Linked DNA regions of Homo sapiens: region 1 is linked to region 2. Evidence: fine-mapped expression QTL. Tissue or cell type: whole blood. Region 2 holds a variant in brackets; the other region holds the start of a gene. All regions are shown on one strand. Distances are between the middles of the regions.

Region 1 (8,325 bases), 57 kb before region 2:
TTGTTTTTTTTTGAGATGGAGTCTAGCTCTGTCACCTAGGCTGGAGTGCAGCAGCGAGCTCTTGGCTCATGGCTCACTGCAACCTCTGCAGCCCAGGTTCAAGTAATTCTCCTGCCTTAGCGTCTCAAGTAGGTGGGACTACAGGCGCATGCCACCAAGCCTGGCTAATTTTTATCTTTTTTTTTTTTTTTTTGAGACAGAATCTCGCTCTGTCGCCAGGCTGGAGTGCAGTGGCATGATCTCGGCTCACTGCAACCTCTGACTCCCTGGTTCAAGCAATTCTCCTGCCTCAGTCTCGCAGGTAGCTGGGATTACAGGCACATGCCACCACGCCCAGATCATTTTTGTATTTTTAGTAGAGAGGGGGTTTTGCCATGTTGGCGAGGCTGGTTTCTAACTCCTGACCTCAGGTGATCTGTCTGCCTCCGCCTCCCAAAGTGCTGGGATAACAGGCATGAGCCCCTGCGCCCGCCCCGACCCCATTTTAGACCTGAGAAAAATAAGGGTCAGAAAGGTTAGGTAACAAGTGAAAAGATATAAAGCCCTGGCCCCCTGGTTCCATATCCACTCCTCTCTGCAGTCAGACACTGCTCTATAGTATCTCTTCCAAACACCACATTGTTAATGTTCAGAAAAGAATGTTAAGAAGTTCCAAAAGATCTTAATTAAGAAAAAAATAAGCCTCTGCAGGAGCCGAAGGGACTGAGCACTTTGGCAATTTGGAGATGGCTAATGACGGTTCTTACACAGTTGTTGGGGGTAGGGAGAGCATTCTGGGACAGTCTGACAGAGGAAGTCACTAGACTTCTAACTTTAGTAAACAGGTTCTCTAGCTTGGAAGTAGAACTGGTAGCTCAGCATTTACTGGGCTAGAAAACTTAGGAAGTTTCAAAGGGCACTGTAAATCAGGTGAAGGCTGACTATTTTGGTTTATAGCTTATATTATCTGAGAAAGAGCTATCAGAAAGGTAGGTTATTGAATGATCATAGCTTTCCCACAGTAGTCAACTTAAAATATTGTGTTCCTTTTTGTGACAGAAATTCTGAAACATGAGCTGGTATGCTGGCGAGTGCCTACAATCCCAGGTACTTGGAGGGGTTGAGGCAGGAGGATCCCTTGGGCCCAGCAGCTTGAGTCCAGCCTGGGCAACATACTGAGAGCCCATCTCCAAAAAGAAAACCATTCTCAAACATGCATGAAATGTAAGAAAATAAACCCCTATGACACATCATTTGGCTTCAAAAATTATCAATATTTTGCCATTCTTATGTGCTTGACTTTTTTTTTTTTTGAGACAGAGTCTCACTCTTTAGCCCAGGCTGGAGGGCAGTGGTGTGATCATAGCCTACTGTAGCCTCCAACTCCTGGGCTTAAGCAATCCTCCCACCTGAACCTCCAGCTGGGACTACAGACTCACGCCACCACACCCATCATATTTTTACATTTTTAGTAGAGATGAGGTCTCCCTTTGTTGCCCAGGCTGGTCTAGAACTCCTGGGCTCAAGCAATCCTCCCACCTGAGCCTCCAGGTTACATGGGACTACAGACTTACTCCACCATGCCCATCTAATTTTCACATTTTTAGTGGAGATGAGGTCTCCCTATGTTGCCCAGGCTGGTCTAGAACTCCCGGGCTAAAGCAATCCTCCTGTCTCCACCTCTCAAAGTGCTGGGATTATGGGCTTGTACAGCCTGGAGTGCAGTGGCACCTTCTTTTTTTTTTTGAGACGGAGTTTCACTCTTGTTGCCAAGCTGGAGTGCAGTGGGATGATCTCGGCTCACTGCAACCTCCGCCTCCTGGGTTCAAGTGATTCTTCTGCCTGAGGTTCCTGAGTAGCTGGGATTACAGGCATCCACCACCACACCCAGATAATTTTTTGTATTTTTAGTAGAGATGGGGTTTCACCATGTTGGCCAGGCTGGTCTCGAACTCCTGACGTCAGGTGATTCACCTGCCTCAGCCTCCCAGAGTGCTAGGATTATAGGCGTGAGCCATTGTGCCCAGCCCAGTGGGCACCTTCTTAACTCCTTGTAGCCTGGAACTCCTGGGCTAAAGCCATCCTCCTGTCTCAGCCTCTCGAGTAGCTGGGACTACAAGGGTACGCCACCACACCTGGGCTAATTTTTAAAACTTTTGGTAGAGACAGAGCCTCACTATGCTGGCTAGCCTGTGCTTGACTTTTAAATATGTGTTTGTGTAAGGCTTTCTTTAAAAGCTATTAACTATACTATTTTAGCAAATATACATGGGAAATTATCAAGGAACAATAAAATGATCTTGTTCCAAGCACCATGAACTTGGAGCCTTTCATTTTTTTTCATTCAGGGTGGATATGAAGAGCAGCTGCTGACCTTGTTAAGGTAGCCACAGAAATGACTGAAGACTTAGAGGTGGGAGTACACAAGCTTGGAACAAGATTTTGTTCATTCATTCCTACAGCCATTCAACCAGCATATTCTGGGCACTTCTCATGCACACTGGCCATCCACCAGGGAGACAGGCCATGCTTAGACATAGGCTTATTGCAAATCATGTTTTATCCTTTCTTGGCTCTAAGACTGGACAAGTTCTGCCTTTCAGCTTCACCTTCCTCATCTATAAAGTAAGGATAACCTTGAATGGGGCACTGATAGAATTAAAAGTGAGATAATTGGTCGGGCGTGGTGGTACATGCCTGTAATCCTAGCACTTTGGGAGGCCACGGTGGGAGGATCACTTGAGCCTAGGAGTTTGAGACCAGCCTGGGCAACAAAGTGAGAAATTATCAAGGAACAATAAAATGATCTTATTACAAAGAAAACCAAATTCTCAAACATGCATGAAATATGAAGAAAATAAACCTCCATGACAATCATTTGGCTTCAAAAATTATCAGTATTTGAACTTGGAGCCTTTGATTTTGATTTTTGCATCTCTACAAAAATTACAAAATATGAGCCGGGTGTGGTGGCGGGTGCCTGTAGTCCTAGCTACTTAAACTGAGTTGGGAGGATTGCTTGAGCCCTGGGAGGTCGAGGGTGCAATGAGCCATAATCGTGACACTGTGTGTGAGACTGCCACACACACACACACACACACACACTAGTGAGGCTACGCACTCAGAAATGCACATGAACATCACTGGTATTCTGGAACCCACGTGTCGTTTGCCACTGTTATCTGTTAGGCTTTAGGGCTTGACGACAGAAATCATCAGGCAGTCTCTCTTTCCTCTTATATTCCTTTCCCAATCTAAGGGGGCAGCAAAAAGCTCAGAGGTCCACCGTAGCATGCAACATGTGAGATGCCTAAAGCCCGCCCCCATCGACGACAGCATTCATCCATCTCCCGAATTCATCTGGGTCATACTCTCGAGTTACCCGGCTTTCTTGAGGTCTTGCAGCTCTACAAGGATAATCTGTGGCTAAACTTTGCTGTCGTCCAAGGTCAAATGTTTGGCTCACAGGTTGAAGAGCCTCCCATGGCACCGTCGTTTGGTCCTGAGAAGGGAAAGGCGCCCAGGGGGCGGGCTGCTAGAGCACGAGGCAGCTGTCTCCCAGTCTTCCCAAACCCGTAGCCGAGGGGGCGTTTCTGCGGCGCAGGGGCGGGCACAGCCGACGCCTCCCTGCTCCACCTTCTGTGTCGGCGCCTAGACTCGGATAGTGAATTTCGGAAAGTTTCACTCGGGTTCGTGCACGTGGGCACCTCCGGACCCGGCCTCCTTGCCGCGCGCTCTGCTACCCTCTCCATCCAGCGGCGCAGGCGGCCCTCGCCTCACCCCTGGGCGTAGCTCTGGGCTCCCTTTGGCGTCGCCAGCTTCGCCTCCTCCCGCCGCGTCTCCTCCCGCCGCGTCACCCGTCGGTCCCGGCCGCGCTCGCACGCGGTGCGCAGCTCCCGGGCTCCAGGCGGCGGCGCGTAGCGGGCGCCCCCGAGGCGGCGGGCCTGAGAGGCGGGGACGGGGCGTGCCGCCGGCGCCCGGCTCCCGGAAGCGGCTGCTTCACAGGCTCCAGCCGAGCGGACAGGCGTGGCGGCCGGAGCCCCAGCATCCCTGCTTGAGGTCCAGGAGCGGAGCCCGCGGCCACCGCCGCCTGATCAGCGCGACCCCGGCCCGCGCCCGCCCCGCCCGGCAAGATGCTGCCCGTGTACCAGGAGGTGAAGCCCAACCCGCTGCAGGACGCGAACCTCTGCTCACGCGTGTTCTTCTGGTGAGTGTCCCCGCCCGAAACAGGTCACCCTGCAGCCGCTGGCGCCGCGGACGCACTCTCCCGGGGCCGCGCCCGATGCTGCCCAAGCCCTCTGCGGCTGGGGGCGAGGGGAGCGCTTTCCTACGCCACGCGGTCCACGCCGGGGCTTTCTGCTGCGGGTGGCGCCGCCCCCACGCCGGCCGCGTGGTCCCTGCCTGCGCCCCGGGGCGCGGCGCAGGGGGACGCGGGGACGCGGGGCCAGTGGCTTTGCTACTGGAGGCCCTGCGGGCCCTTAGGGCTCGGGGGAGGAGGAGCAGGAGGTGGGGAGGCGGGGAACCCAGGCTGCCGAAAGGGGGAGTCTCTTGCCCAGCGGGAGAAGCGACTGCACCCCTTACACGCCCACCCTTCGCTGGCTCCCGCCTCCTGCTCTGGGACTCGCAGTCTCCTGAACTCAAACGCACCTTTTCCTTTCTTTTTAAGTAAGCAGCTTACGAACAGTTTCCTTTATCTGATCTCAGCCAAAGCCTAATTAGTGTCCTGGACCTATGCCATCTCCCAGTAGTGTCCCCACCCCTTCCGATATTCCTTACGAGACAGCTCGATCCAACTCCACGTCCCGTTGTACCTCTCTGTGTCCCGGTGTCTCTGTATCTTTTGTCTCAGTGACCAGGGCTCTCCTTTTGCCTCTTTGTGGGAATCTCACTGTGTGTCCATGTGGGTCGTGGTACCTAGTTATGGCAAGTTTCATGTGGGTAAAATAACACTATTATTATTTTTCATTTATGAATGGGGACCCTGTTCTTGAACAAGATTTTCCAGGATTTGCTTTTAACTGGGACATGCACCGCCACGACTGGAGTCTGTCTTTGACCAGCTTCTTTCCCCTGTTTCCAATACTTTCACTTCCACGTAGGAGGACAGCTCGGAGGTGGGGTCCCTGGAATCGCTAACCTTCAGAGAGGTGATCCATGGTCTTGATGCAGGTGGTTCCTACCAGGAGTTCTACCTTCTTAAAACCACCCCAGGGCTCCTGAGCTGGGAGGGCCCACAGCCCTACCCATTTTGTGCAAGGAAACAAACGGAGAAAGACTCGGGTGACAGTAGTAACTAAAATTTCCATCTTGGCCTGGCGCGGTGGCTCACGCCTGTATCCCTGCACTTTGGGAGGCAGAGGTGGGTGGATCACGAGGTCAGGAGTTCGAGACCAGCCTGGCTGACATGGTGAAACCCCGTCTCTACTAAAAATACAAAAATTAGCCGGGTGTGGTGGAGCACGCCTGTAATCCCAGCTACTCAGGAGGCTGAGGCAGGGGAATTGCTTGAACCCAGTAGGCGGAGGTTGCAGTGAGCTGAGATCGCCCCACTGTACTCCAGCCTGGGTGACAGAGTGAGACTCCGTCTTGGGGGAGTGGCGGGTGTGTGTGGGGGAATTCCGTCTGCTAACTACATAAGCCTGAACCTTTGAAGGGCTTCAATCTCACTTGGATGATTATTAGATCTTCTGTTTCTTGACCTCTGCCGCCTCATCTTTCCCACATGTTGATATTGCCTTTTATTATGGGACAACCTAGGGTGGGGGTCTCCAATTTTTTGGGTTCCCTGGGCCACACTGGAAGAATTGTCTTGGGCCATACATAAAATACACTAACACTAATCATACACTAACACTAATGATAGCTGATGAGCTAAAAAAAAATCGCAAAAAAAAATCTGATGTTTTAAGAAAGCTTACGAATTTGGCAGCCCATGGGCCTCAGGTTGGACAAGCTTGACCTAGGGGATTCCAAGAGGATGAGTCGCTTACTCTTGTTTCGATTGTGGTACACTCAGTGGGTGTAGGAACTTCTCTTGGTTGTTTGGCGGCCTTTCTCTTAAGGAGAGGGGCACGTGGAGGAGGAAGGAATATGGGTGTGGTTTCTGCAAATAATAACTTGAGGTAGACAAATGGTCTCCTCAACTTCAGGCAGGGCAAGGAACTTTTTTTTTTTTTTTTTGAGACAGGATCTTGCTTTGTGCAAGCTGTGACCCAGGCTGGAGGGCAGTGACACATTCATAGCTTGCTGCAGCCTCCAACTCCTGGGCCGAAGCAATCCTCCTGCCTCAGCCTCCCGAGTAGCTGGGGCTCCAGGTGTGTGTCACCATGCCCGGATAATAAAAAAAAATTTTTTTTGTAGAGATAGGGCTCTCTATGTTGTTGCTCAGGCTGGTCTTGAACTCCTGGGCTCAAGTGTTCCTCCCGCTTCGGCCACCCAAAGTCTGGGATTACAGATGTGACTCCTGCCTCCTTATATTTTTCTCCCCCTGCATTTTCAAAATGTAGGTGGCAGGGAAATAGGAAGTGATGCGCTCCCATTGATGACTTGAGTAGGTGTTCATTTCCGGTTTCCCTGATGGAAGGGAAGGAGCTAGTAGACCTCTGTTTTACTCCGAGGACACTTAAGCTGAGAGTGGTTAAGTTGCCTGGACTCACACAACAATCAAGTGTCAGAGCAGGCTCCAAAGCTGGGCAGACTGGCTCCCCAGCCTCTTTGGAGCTGCTGTACTGAGCTGCTTCCAGTTCAGGTGCTGTCGGAAATGCATGGAGAAGGCGCTCCCTGTTCTGGAAGGCTAGAGTTTCTCAAGGGAAATTCTTAAAGTACCTGCAGTTGGAGATGATGCATGTGTAACAACTATTAGTGTGCTTTAGGGCAGCTGTTCTCAAAGCATAGCACTCAGAGCAGCAGCATCGGCATCACTTGGGAGATTCTAAGAGATGCAGATTCTCCAGCATCCACTCTGGACTGATTCAGTAAAACTGGAAACACTGGGTGTGTGGGTGGGGGTGGTGAGGTTTCAAGTGCTCCAGGTGATCCTGATTTGAGGCGCTTACTGCTTCCAGCTACTCCTTTCATTGGAGTATTATTACAGTATTATGCTTTTCTTTATTTTTAATTGTTAAAATTTCTTTATTTCTTTTTTTTGAGACGGAGTCTTTCTCTGTTGCTCAGCTCTGTCACCCAGGCTGGAGTGCAGTGGTGCAATCTCTGCTCACTGCAACCTCTGCCTCCTGGGTTCAAGTGATTCTCCTGCCCCAGTCTCTCAAGTAGCTGGGACTATAGGCGTGCACCCTCACACCCAGCTAATTTTTGTATTTTTGGTAGAGATGGGGTTGCACCATGTTGGCCAGGCTGGTCTTGAACTCCTGACCTCAGGTGATCTGCCCGCCTTGGCCTCCAAAAATGCTGGGATTACAGGCATGAGCCACTGTGCCTGGGCCAGTTTGAGGGATTTTAAAGTCTGAGGCCTCATAGTGAGAAAATAATAATAATCATCATCTGAGGAATGCGGAGTCCTTTTAAATTATCAGGCCCAGAGAGACATTAAAATGACACAGCAGTCACCTCGTAGTTCCCACCCCCTTGAGCTATTTACTTATCACTCGAAAGTACTTCATATTGCCACATAGCTACAGATTAACCTAACAGTGCCCCAAGGACACTGTAATCCACAGCTCAGGAGTTTGAGCTCCAGCGATCTGCCTGCCTCGGCCTCCCAAAGTGCTGGGATTACAGGCATGAACCACCACACTGGGTCTGTAGTAAATTCTTGAGTTATATTTTGTGCCTTAGCCTCCTGCTTTTAGGTCAGTATTTGTGTACCCTTCCCACTGCCAGTGGAAAGCTGAAATGAGCCCATCCAGGAAGTGGCTGCCTGGAGACAGGGCCCACCTTGTAGGGAAAAACTGCTTTTTCACCTTCTTGTTGAGTGTTTGCTTTTCTTCTCAAATATCATCTGCTTTCTGAACTTGTGAACTGGCAGCTGCCTACCTAAATGATGCCAATAACTGGCTTACTGACTTTTATTCAAAGTATTTTCCCGGGATTTTGGTGTATTTATAGCATAATTTGGACTTGGAGTCTAAAAGGAGTCATGCATTATGGCTGTTGGCAATTGTGGATTTTTAAAGGTAGTATTTTCACCTATTTCTTTCTTTTTTCTTTCTTTTTTTTTTTTATGAGACAGAGTTTTAGCTCTGTTGCCAGGCTGGCCGTGGTGTGATCTCGGCTCACTGCAACCTCCGCCTCCAGGGTTCAAGTGATTCTCCTGCTTCAGACTCCCAAGTAGCTGGGATTACAAGTGCCCACCACCATACCTGGCTAATTTTCATGTTTTTAGTAGAG
Region 2 (8,325 bases):
GATAGAGCTAGGGACTGTGTGTGTGTGTGTGTGTGTGCACATGTTAACTTTTCTCTCTCTAGCTCTATATATTCATATCTGTCTGTCTATATATAGCTGTATGTATTTTAAAGGTAAGTTTAAGCAAAACCCATGGAGGTAGGAGTCTACTTAAACACGGATGTGTAATTCTGGATATATGTCTCTTTTCTCTTGTTAACAGGTGGCTCAATCCCTTGTTTAAAATTGGCCATAAACGGAGATTAGAGGAAGATGATATGTATTCAGTGCTGCCAGAAGACCGCTCACAGCACCTTGGAGAGGAGTTGCAAGGGTAAGTCGGAGGCAGTAAAGTGGGCATTAAGGAAGCGTGGGTGTCTGTGTGTGGGGAGTGGGTTTTGCCTTCCTGGGTCCTGTCTGGAGCCTCCGTTTACCCTTAAGGTGAATATGTGTCACCTTCCTCAGGCTGCCCCTAGGCTCAGCCTACCATGGTGGCCTGGGGGAAACTCCTGTTGCCTGTGCCTCCGTAGAGGTCAGGGGAGCCAGCACCAAAGGCCCGAGATGCCTGAGGTCTGTCCCTCTAGGTGGAAGTGTTGTGGTTGGAGGAGGTTGTCTGGCTTATCTGTGCTACTGATGGGGCTTCAATCCAGTAAAGCTTGGCAGTAACTTGTTTCCCCAGACTTCCCCTCAAGGCCTGTTTTTCTGATGCTCCAGATTCTGTACCACACATAACCTTCAGGAGCCCTGGGAGCAATTAGTAGCATTTATGAAATCGTCACAAAATGCCCTGTCTTAAATGCATACCTGTCACTCTGCCATCTCCCCTGTTTTATATTGTGGCAGGGTTCACTCTTATTTACGAAGCTTTTTCCTCATTGTAGGTTCTGGGATAAAGAAGTTTTAAGAGCTGAGAATGACGCACAGAAGCCTTCTTTAACAAGAGCAATCATAAAGTGTTACTGGAAATCTTATTTAGTTTTGGGAATTTTTACGTTAATTGAGGTAAAAGCTTTTACATACCATGAATTGTTTTTCAGGACACATAGAGTAAATGTGCTCGCCATTGACTGGTGCTGTAATGGATGGGGGAACAGAAGGGAGAAGTGGCCAGATGGGGTTTGAAGGTATTTTAAGGTCTAAGGATTAAACATGTCTAGGAAGTATTAGGTAGTTAGTTCAGTGAGCGTATTTATCCAGGTGAATACTTAAGTGACTGAAGTTCAAGGTCATTATTGTTTTTCTTGTAACCAATTAAAATGCAGTGTCATGGAAGAAGAGTATTTTATTCTATGGTAGGACAATGTTGGTGCTCGGTAAATGTTTTAAATGCTAAGAGTCACTCCTGGTCAAAAGAGGATCCTACAGCCTTGAGGAGTGCGTGCCCTGTGGTTTAGAGGAAGTGATTTTGGATCGGAGCCCAGAATAATGTAAGACATTTTACAGGTGCTCAACAAATAATTGTTCACCAAGCCAAATCTGATAATTGCTCTTCTGGAGAGGTATTGTCACCTCTCCCCTCTCGGGGAAACAGAGCTGAGGGCCTTGCACCTGGGCTGGCGGTGGTGCCCCAGAGGCTGGAGCTGGCTGAAGCACCCAAGAGCTACCCCCTCCCAGTGGGCCCAGGTGCTGGGAGCCAAAATCCCCTCTGGGAAGAAGGTCCGAGGACTGTGCACCCAAGGGGATTCATCACACCCATCCGGTGTGTCTTCCTTGTTGTCGGAGTGGATTGCTGGTTGGAAGGTAGAGTCTTGGTGCCTGGCCCTGCAGAGAATGTATAAATGGACATTCCATGAAAAATCAAAGACAGCCAGAAGGGCAATAACCTCTGTTACCCCGAAGGGCCTCTCTTGAGATCTGCAGAAAGACAGTGTTCTGCCTAGGCACACTGCCAGGTAGCTTGTCCGTTCTGGTCTTTGGCCTGCTAGAGGAGATGCAGAGGGTCCTGCTGGGTGACTTGTGTCCTCTGTGCTACCTTAGGGATGTCAGTGGTCCATTAAAGTTAGAGGGGTGGATGTTGCTGTTGTTACAAAAGGGTGGCTTTAAATGCAGGATGGGGAGTTGTCACGGTGCATTTTGTTGGGAATGAGGTGGGTGGGGGGAGGGGGTTGGTTTGTATGTGGGGGGGTTTGCTCCTGTTGAACATGCTTTTTGTTGTGGAGGGCACGGTGGGCAGTGGGAGGCAGGTAGGTGAGCTCTGCCCTACACCAGAGGAATCTGTCAGACAACAGGGGACTGGACGGTCCTGGGAGATGAATGGTCTCATTGGTGACAAAGGTGTTTTGGCCAGGGTGCCAGATGGTGAATGCCACCTTTGAGAGGGTACCCGCCCTGCCTGCATGCTACTGTGGCTTTGTGGCAGATGGGGTGGACATGCAGAATAACCGGTGGAACTGACTTGAGGGTGGAAGAGGGCTAGGAGCCCCTCAGGTTCTCCCAGCCCCTCTTCAACCTGTGCTGGGGTGTCCCAGCGATAGTGTTTCCACATGGCCCCGATCAGTTTCAGTTGGAAAGAAATAGAATGACAAGTCGGTGTCAATGTGGCCAGTGTGTGCAGGATTTCCTGGCCCAGTTTGGCTGTGCAACCTCAGAGAAGTTGTCTGGTAGCCATGGAGCCTCTGTAAGTGTCTAAGGCTCATGCCAGGTGTCTGGTTAGGTGTAGTGGGAATCAATGGCCTCACATAGGTTTCGAGGCATGCCTCCCTCAGCTACTTCCATTTCTCTAGTTTCCCTTTGTCACCAGCTGCTTATGAAATTGAAAACAGGATGATTTAGAAGGAACTGAGCTTGTCATGCTCAGGGCTGTCCATGCTGTCATGGGCTGCCAGCCACTTGGGGTGGGGTCTCTAACCCACAGATGGTGACTGGACTACAGTGAGATTTGGGTAAGCTTTTGGGAGAAGCAGGCACAGAAGTAGAGGCTGTAGAAGCGTGAATTTCTCCTGAGACTTGAGGACAGGCCCCACTCTGGTGCAAGGAGCATGGTAATCTTTACTGCTGGTGGGCATGTGGGAAGGGGCCCGGATCGAGGGGAGCTTTAATATGGGTACAGTTGGTGGAGAGCTGGTCTTTTAGCGGGGTGGTTATTGGGCAGTCATGGCAGAAAAGTAGGGAGTGGAGGACCTGGCAAATATGGGGGCTCATGCTCAGTACTGCTTAGCAGCAGCAGTGCTAGTAGAAGCAGCAGCAGGATTAGTAGTGGTTGGTACTCAGTAGTAGTAGTAGCAGCAGCAGTGATAGTAGCAATAGTTGTAATAATACTGACAGTGAGTACTTGAAAAATACTATGTACCAGGAACTGCTATGATTTCTTTCTTTCTTTCTTTCTTTCTTTCTTTCTTTCTTTCTTTCTTTCTTTCTTTCTTTCTTTCTTTCTTTCTTTCATGTTATTTTATTTTATTTTGTTTTTTGAGATAG[G/A]GTCTCACTCTGTTGCCAGGCTGGAGTGCAGTGGTGCTATCTTGGCTCACTGCAGCTTTGGCCTACTGGGCTCAAGCAGTCCTCCCAAGTAGCTAGGACCACAGGTGCACGCCACCATGCCTGGTTAATTTTTGTATTTTTGTTTCACTATGTTGCCCAGGTTGGTCTTGAACTCCTGGGCTCAAATGATCCTCCCACCTTGGCCTCTCAAAGTGCTGGGATTATAGGCAGGAATCACCATGCTCAGTCAGAAGGCATTCTTTTAACCCTACTTTTGGGAAGAGGACACTGGGTGCCATGTAGTTATATAATGTGCCTAGGGCCACACAAAGTGTAAATGACAGAGCCCAGATTCAGTCTCAGGAGCGCTGACTTAGGGACCTAACCATCTCCAGACTGTCGTAAAGGTGTCTTGAGAACTCTGTCTTCAGAGTATCCAGCACATGCTTCTTGAACTTGGCCTAGGGATAAGTCAGATGCTAAGAGCTCCCTGGAACAGTGGGGCATGGCTGTGGGAAATCAGATTGGGGATTATAAATTACCCTAGGTTCCTAGGTGTCCTGGTGCCGGAAAGTCAGGTGACATGCTAGAGAGTGGCTGGGGTGCTGGGCAGGTCAGAGCACCAAGGTACATTCAGGTTGACCACGAACTCTTTTTTTTTTTTTATGTTTTCGTCTGAGGTGGGGTCTCACTCTGTCACTCAGGCTGGAGTGCAGTGGTGTGATCTCAGCTCACTGCAACCTCCATCTCCCTGGGCTCAAGCAATCCTCCCACCTCAGCCTCCTGAGTAGCTGTGACTATAGGCATGCACCATGCCTGGCTTATTTTTTGTATTTTTAGTAGAGATGAGGTTTTACCATGTTGTCCGGGCCGGTCTAGAACTCCTGAGCTCAAGCCATCGGCCCACCTCGCCCTCCCAAATTAATGGGATTACAGGTGTGAGCCACTGTGCCTGGCTGACCAAGAACCCTTTAGAAACCTGTCTCCCACTGAGTACCATCCTCCACATGTGTGAGGCGTGCAGCCCTGCTGACCCAAGTTCATCAACATCCACGCTGTTAAGACACCATTCCCAGTTGTCTCCTCCTCGGATGGACGAGGGGGAAGCTTGTGGTCTTGCATGGTCACGACATTGACTGATGGTCTGGGCGGATGTCAAGTTCCCTGTTTTTACTTATCAAAGGCTCTGGGTTTCTTGCATAGCAATGATATCTCTGCAGTTTCAGAAGCCTTTGGCCTGAATCGTGAAGTGGGTGTGCAGTTTGCTTGGCAAGGATGAAGACCCCAGATGAGTCACTAGTATGGGGACAGCTCTTCTGTCCTGGTATCTGAACCCTCCCACTAGCAAGGTGGGCCCCAGGTATTAGGGCGGCAGGCTAAGGTGTTAAGATGGACCCACACAGTGCTGGCGGCAGGCACCTCTCATATAAAGTGGAGCCTGGGCTTTTCACAAGAGAGCACTTGTTGGTCCTGTGTTTACACCAATATCTTGGTGGTTTATGGTATAAAATTAGACAGTAGTCAGTTATTCTTTAGAGGATCATGGTGACTAGTGGATGATGCTCATTTTAACCTTGTGTCTTTAACATAATAACTGGTAGAACTTTTAGTTCCGATGCAGTGAAGTTCAGGGAGCTAAAGCTCTTCCCAGTTCAACTCAAAGTAATCCTTGGATTTTTTTTTTTCTTTTCCTTCTAGCAGTGAAAACAGCCTGAATTCTAGTATAAATACTATTGTTTTCCCAGCCTTGCCTATTGACACTTGGCTGTTTTGGAGAAGTTGGAGAGAAATAATTTCTTAAGATGAAGGTAGTGAGTGTAACATCTCAAAAGCATTTCAGGTGTTGTTTTGGGTTTTCAATCATTAAAGCTATTTATTGGCCAGGCATGGTGGCTTATGCCTATAATCCCAGCATTTTGGGATGCCAAGGGATGATTATTTGAGCCCAGGAGTTCCCAGCTTTAGTGAGCTATGATTGCACCACTGCACTCCAGCATGGGTGACAGAGCAAGACCTTGTCTCTAAAAAAGAAAATTAGGCCAGGCGCAGTGGCTCACGCCTGTAATCCCAGCACTTTGGGAGGCCAAGGCGGGCGGATCACAAGGTCAGGAGTTCGAGACCAGCCTGACCAACCTGGTGAAACCCCATCTCTATTAAAAATATAAAAATTAGCTGGGCATGGTGGTGGGCGCCTGTAATCCCAGCTACTCAGGAGGCTGAGGCAGGAGAATTGCTTGAACCTGGGAGGTGGAGGTTGCAGTGAGCTGAGATCACGCCACTGCACTTCAGCCTGGGTGACAGAGCAAGACTCTGTCTCAAAAAAAAAAATTATGGAGTTAGAACAAATGTTAGTTTCACAGTTGATTTAATGAAGATGCTTTTCATTTTTTGGTCTTGTGTCTGTGCTGCTTGTGGATCTTCGTATTTTGGATAGTGGAAGCTCTAAACTTAACCTAGCATTTAGTAAAAAGCTTCTGTGATGACTTTCAGGCCTTTTTTAACCCACTTATGCCGGAGGTTGCCAATTTTTTTTGTGTGTGAAAGATCAGACCTTGGCGATGAGGTTGAACAGTAGAATATAAACTCCCACAAGCTTAGTGTTCCAATAATGGAATGCTAGGCACAGATGGGTTAATTCCTCTGGTTACAGAACAACTGTGCAGTGGATCCATAACTCCCTAGCCATATACTCTTAACTAAGCTGAAGGCAAGCAGGGCCTTCCCTGGGTACTAATGATGGCACCAGCAGGAAGAGAGATGGTGACACCAGTTTGCGGGGAGTCTTTGAGGTTGGAATTTCAAAGTAATGCAAGTGAGATTAGGAACGATTGTCAGAGTTGAGGAATGATTATAATGCCCAGAGAAACAAGTACTAGTCTAATGGTGAACATGGTGCTCTTCCAGGCAAATGCTAATTAGAACAGAACAGCCCGCAAATTTCCAGCACATCTGTCCCCTATGTGCACCTCCATGGAGACTGTGATGGGGACTGGAGACTGAGCAAGTATCCACCCACTTAGAGCCTGCAGGGGGGGCAGGAGGAAGGAGGAGCTTGGGAATCCTCTGTGTGGGCCAAACCAGGACACAGGCAGCTTCTCCATTTGTATCTATGCTGCTTGTTGGTCTTTGTATTTTAGATAGTTGAAGATTATCTAAATGTTTCTTTGAGAAATGAGATGTGTATTTTTTTTTTTTTCCTGAGATGGAGTCTCATTCTGTCACCAGGCTGGAGTGCAGTGGCACGATCTCGGCTCACTGCAACCTCTGCCTCCCAGGTTCAAGTGATTCTGCTGCCTCTGCCTCCTGAGTAGCTGGGACTACAGGTGTGCGCCACCACACCCAGCTAATTTTTTTGTATTTTTAGTAGAGATGGGGTTTCACCATGTTGGCCAGGATGGTCTCGATCTCTTGACCTTGTGATTCACCCACCTTGGCCTCCCAGAGTGCTGGGATTACAGGCATGAGCCATCGTGCCTGGCCAATGAGGTGGTTTTTAATAACTTCAATTCTACATTTCTTGTTCAGCTGCCTGACATGAGGGCCAAGGCCAAGCCTCATGTGGTATTTTCTTTCTTTGGTTGTTTTGTTTTTTGAGCCAGAGTCTCACTCTGTCACCCAGGTTAGAGTGCAGTGGTGTGATCTTGGCTCACTGCAACCTCTGTCTCCTTGGTTCAAGCCATTCTTCTGCCTCAGCCTCCCGAATAGCTGGGATTGCAAGCTTATACCACCACATGTAGCTAATTTTTGTATTTTTAGTAGAGACAGGGTTTTACCATGTTGGCCAGCCTGGTCTCGAACTCCTGACCTCAAGTGATTCGTCTGCCTCGGCCTCCCAAAATGCTGGGATCTTTCTTAGGTTTTTAAAGATCATTTCAAAAATATAAAATATAATAGAATACTAAGCCTCTCTCTACCCCTAAGCCAGCTTCAGTAACTATCAACTCATGACCACTCTTGATTTTTATGAAGCCCTGCTCACTGCCCCCTCTGAAGATGTGTGTGTGTGTGTGTGTGTGTGTGTGTGTGTGTGTTTTGAGATGGAGTTTTGCTCTTGCCCAGGCTGGAGTGCAGTGGCATGATCTTGGTTCACTGCAACCTCTGCCTCCTGGGTTCAAGTGATTCTCCTGCCTCAGCCTCCTGAGTAGCTGGGATTATAGGCATCTGCCACCATGCCCGGGTAATTTTGTATTTTTAGTAGAGATGGGGTTTCACCATGTTGGCCAGGCTGGTCTCGAACTCCTGACCTCAAGTGGTCCACCTGCCTCAGCCTCTCAAAGTGCTGAGATTACATCGCGCCCAGCCGCGTGTGTACTTTCTAATTGAAGAAACCGTGTTGTTTGCCCTGCACGGATTCCCAGGGTCTAGATTGGGCTCATTGCATATCCCTCCTCCCCTCTTGTGACCCTCTACATCCTTGCATGCTGTATCATTTAACATGTCCATCTGGTACCAGAAGTTAGTAGTTAGATCTAGAAGCTTGATGTGATTCAGGTTTTATTTTCCCCCCTCCTCCCTTTGGCAAGAGTACTTTGTAGGTGAGGGTGTGTACCACCTGCCACTTCGAGATACCTCGCTTAGGTCTGGTTATGTGTGTGTGGTATTTGGAGCCATTCATGATCATTGCTTAAGATGCATTAATTTGTTAGGAGTTTGCAAAGTGGTGATATTCCAGTTCCTCATTTATTAGCTGAAATATTTGCATAAAGAGAAACTTTGCCATTATCAACTCTTTGATACTCTGAGTTACAGTACACCTATAGGAAAGGCAGGAGAAATGATTAATTTTGTTATTTTTTTTTAAAACCGATTTTCAAAATAATGAGTGATTCTCCAGCATTTTCCTGTGGAGTTAATGGATTTTTTGTTATTGCTTGTTCTGTATATTTTGATGAGTATGATTGTGAGCTCATGGATTTAAACAGTTCTGATGTG

The links. PIP is the estimated chance that this variant, and not a neighbour inherited with it, causes the effect.
Region 1: it holds the start of ABCC4, and the variant in region 2 is fine-mapped to the expression of ABCC4 in whole blood (TOPMed, PIP above 0.99).

What each region holds. Positions count from the first base shown.
Region 1 is chr13:95,297,102-95,305,426 of GRCh38, reverse strand. It overlaps ABCC4 (ATP binding cassette subfamily C member 4 (PEL blood group)), which reads left to right and starts at 3,976. Exons shown (of 31, transcript NM_005845.5): 1 at 3,976-4,186. The coding sequence starts at 4,113. LOC102724149 (a long non-coding RNA gene) reads right to left here and starts at 4,476. Exons shown (of 3, transcript XR_429273.4): 1 at 4,164-4,476; 2 at 3,101-3,481. RefSeq lists silencers at 3,471-3,530, 3,711-3,770, 3,801-4,440 and enhancers at 3,257-4,031, 5,634-5,693.
Region 2 is chr13:95,239,631-95,247,955 of GRCh38, reverse strand. ABCC4 (ATP binding cassette subfamily C member 4 (PEL blood group)) reads left to right here. Exons shown (of 31, transcript NM_005845.5): 2 at 203-313; 3 at 861-981. Among named protein-coding and RNA genes, the nearest start is that of SNORD13G, 33 kb to the right of the region's middle. RefSeq lists an enhancer at 2,904-2,983. The variant G/A (reference allele first, on the strand shown) is at 3,394.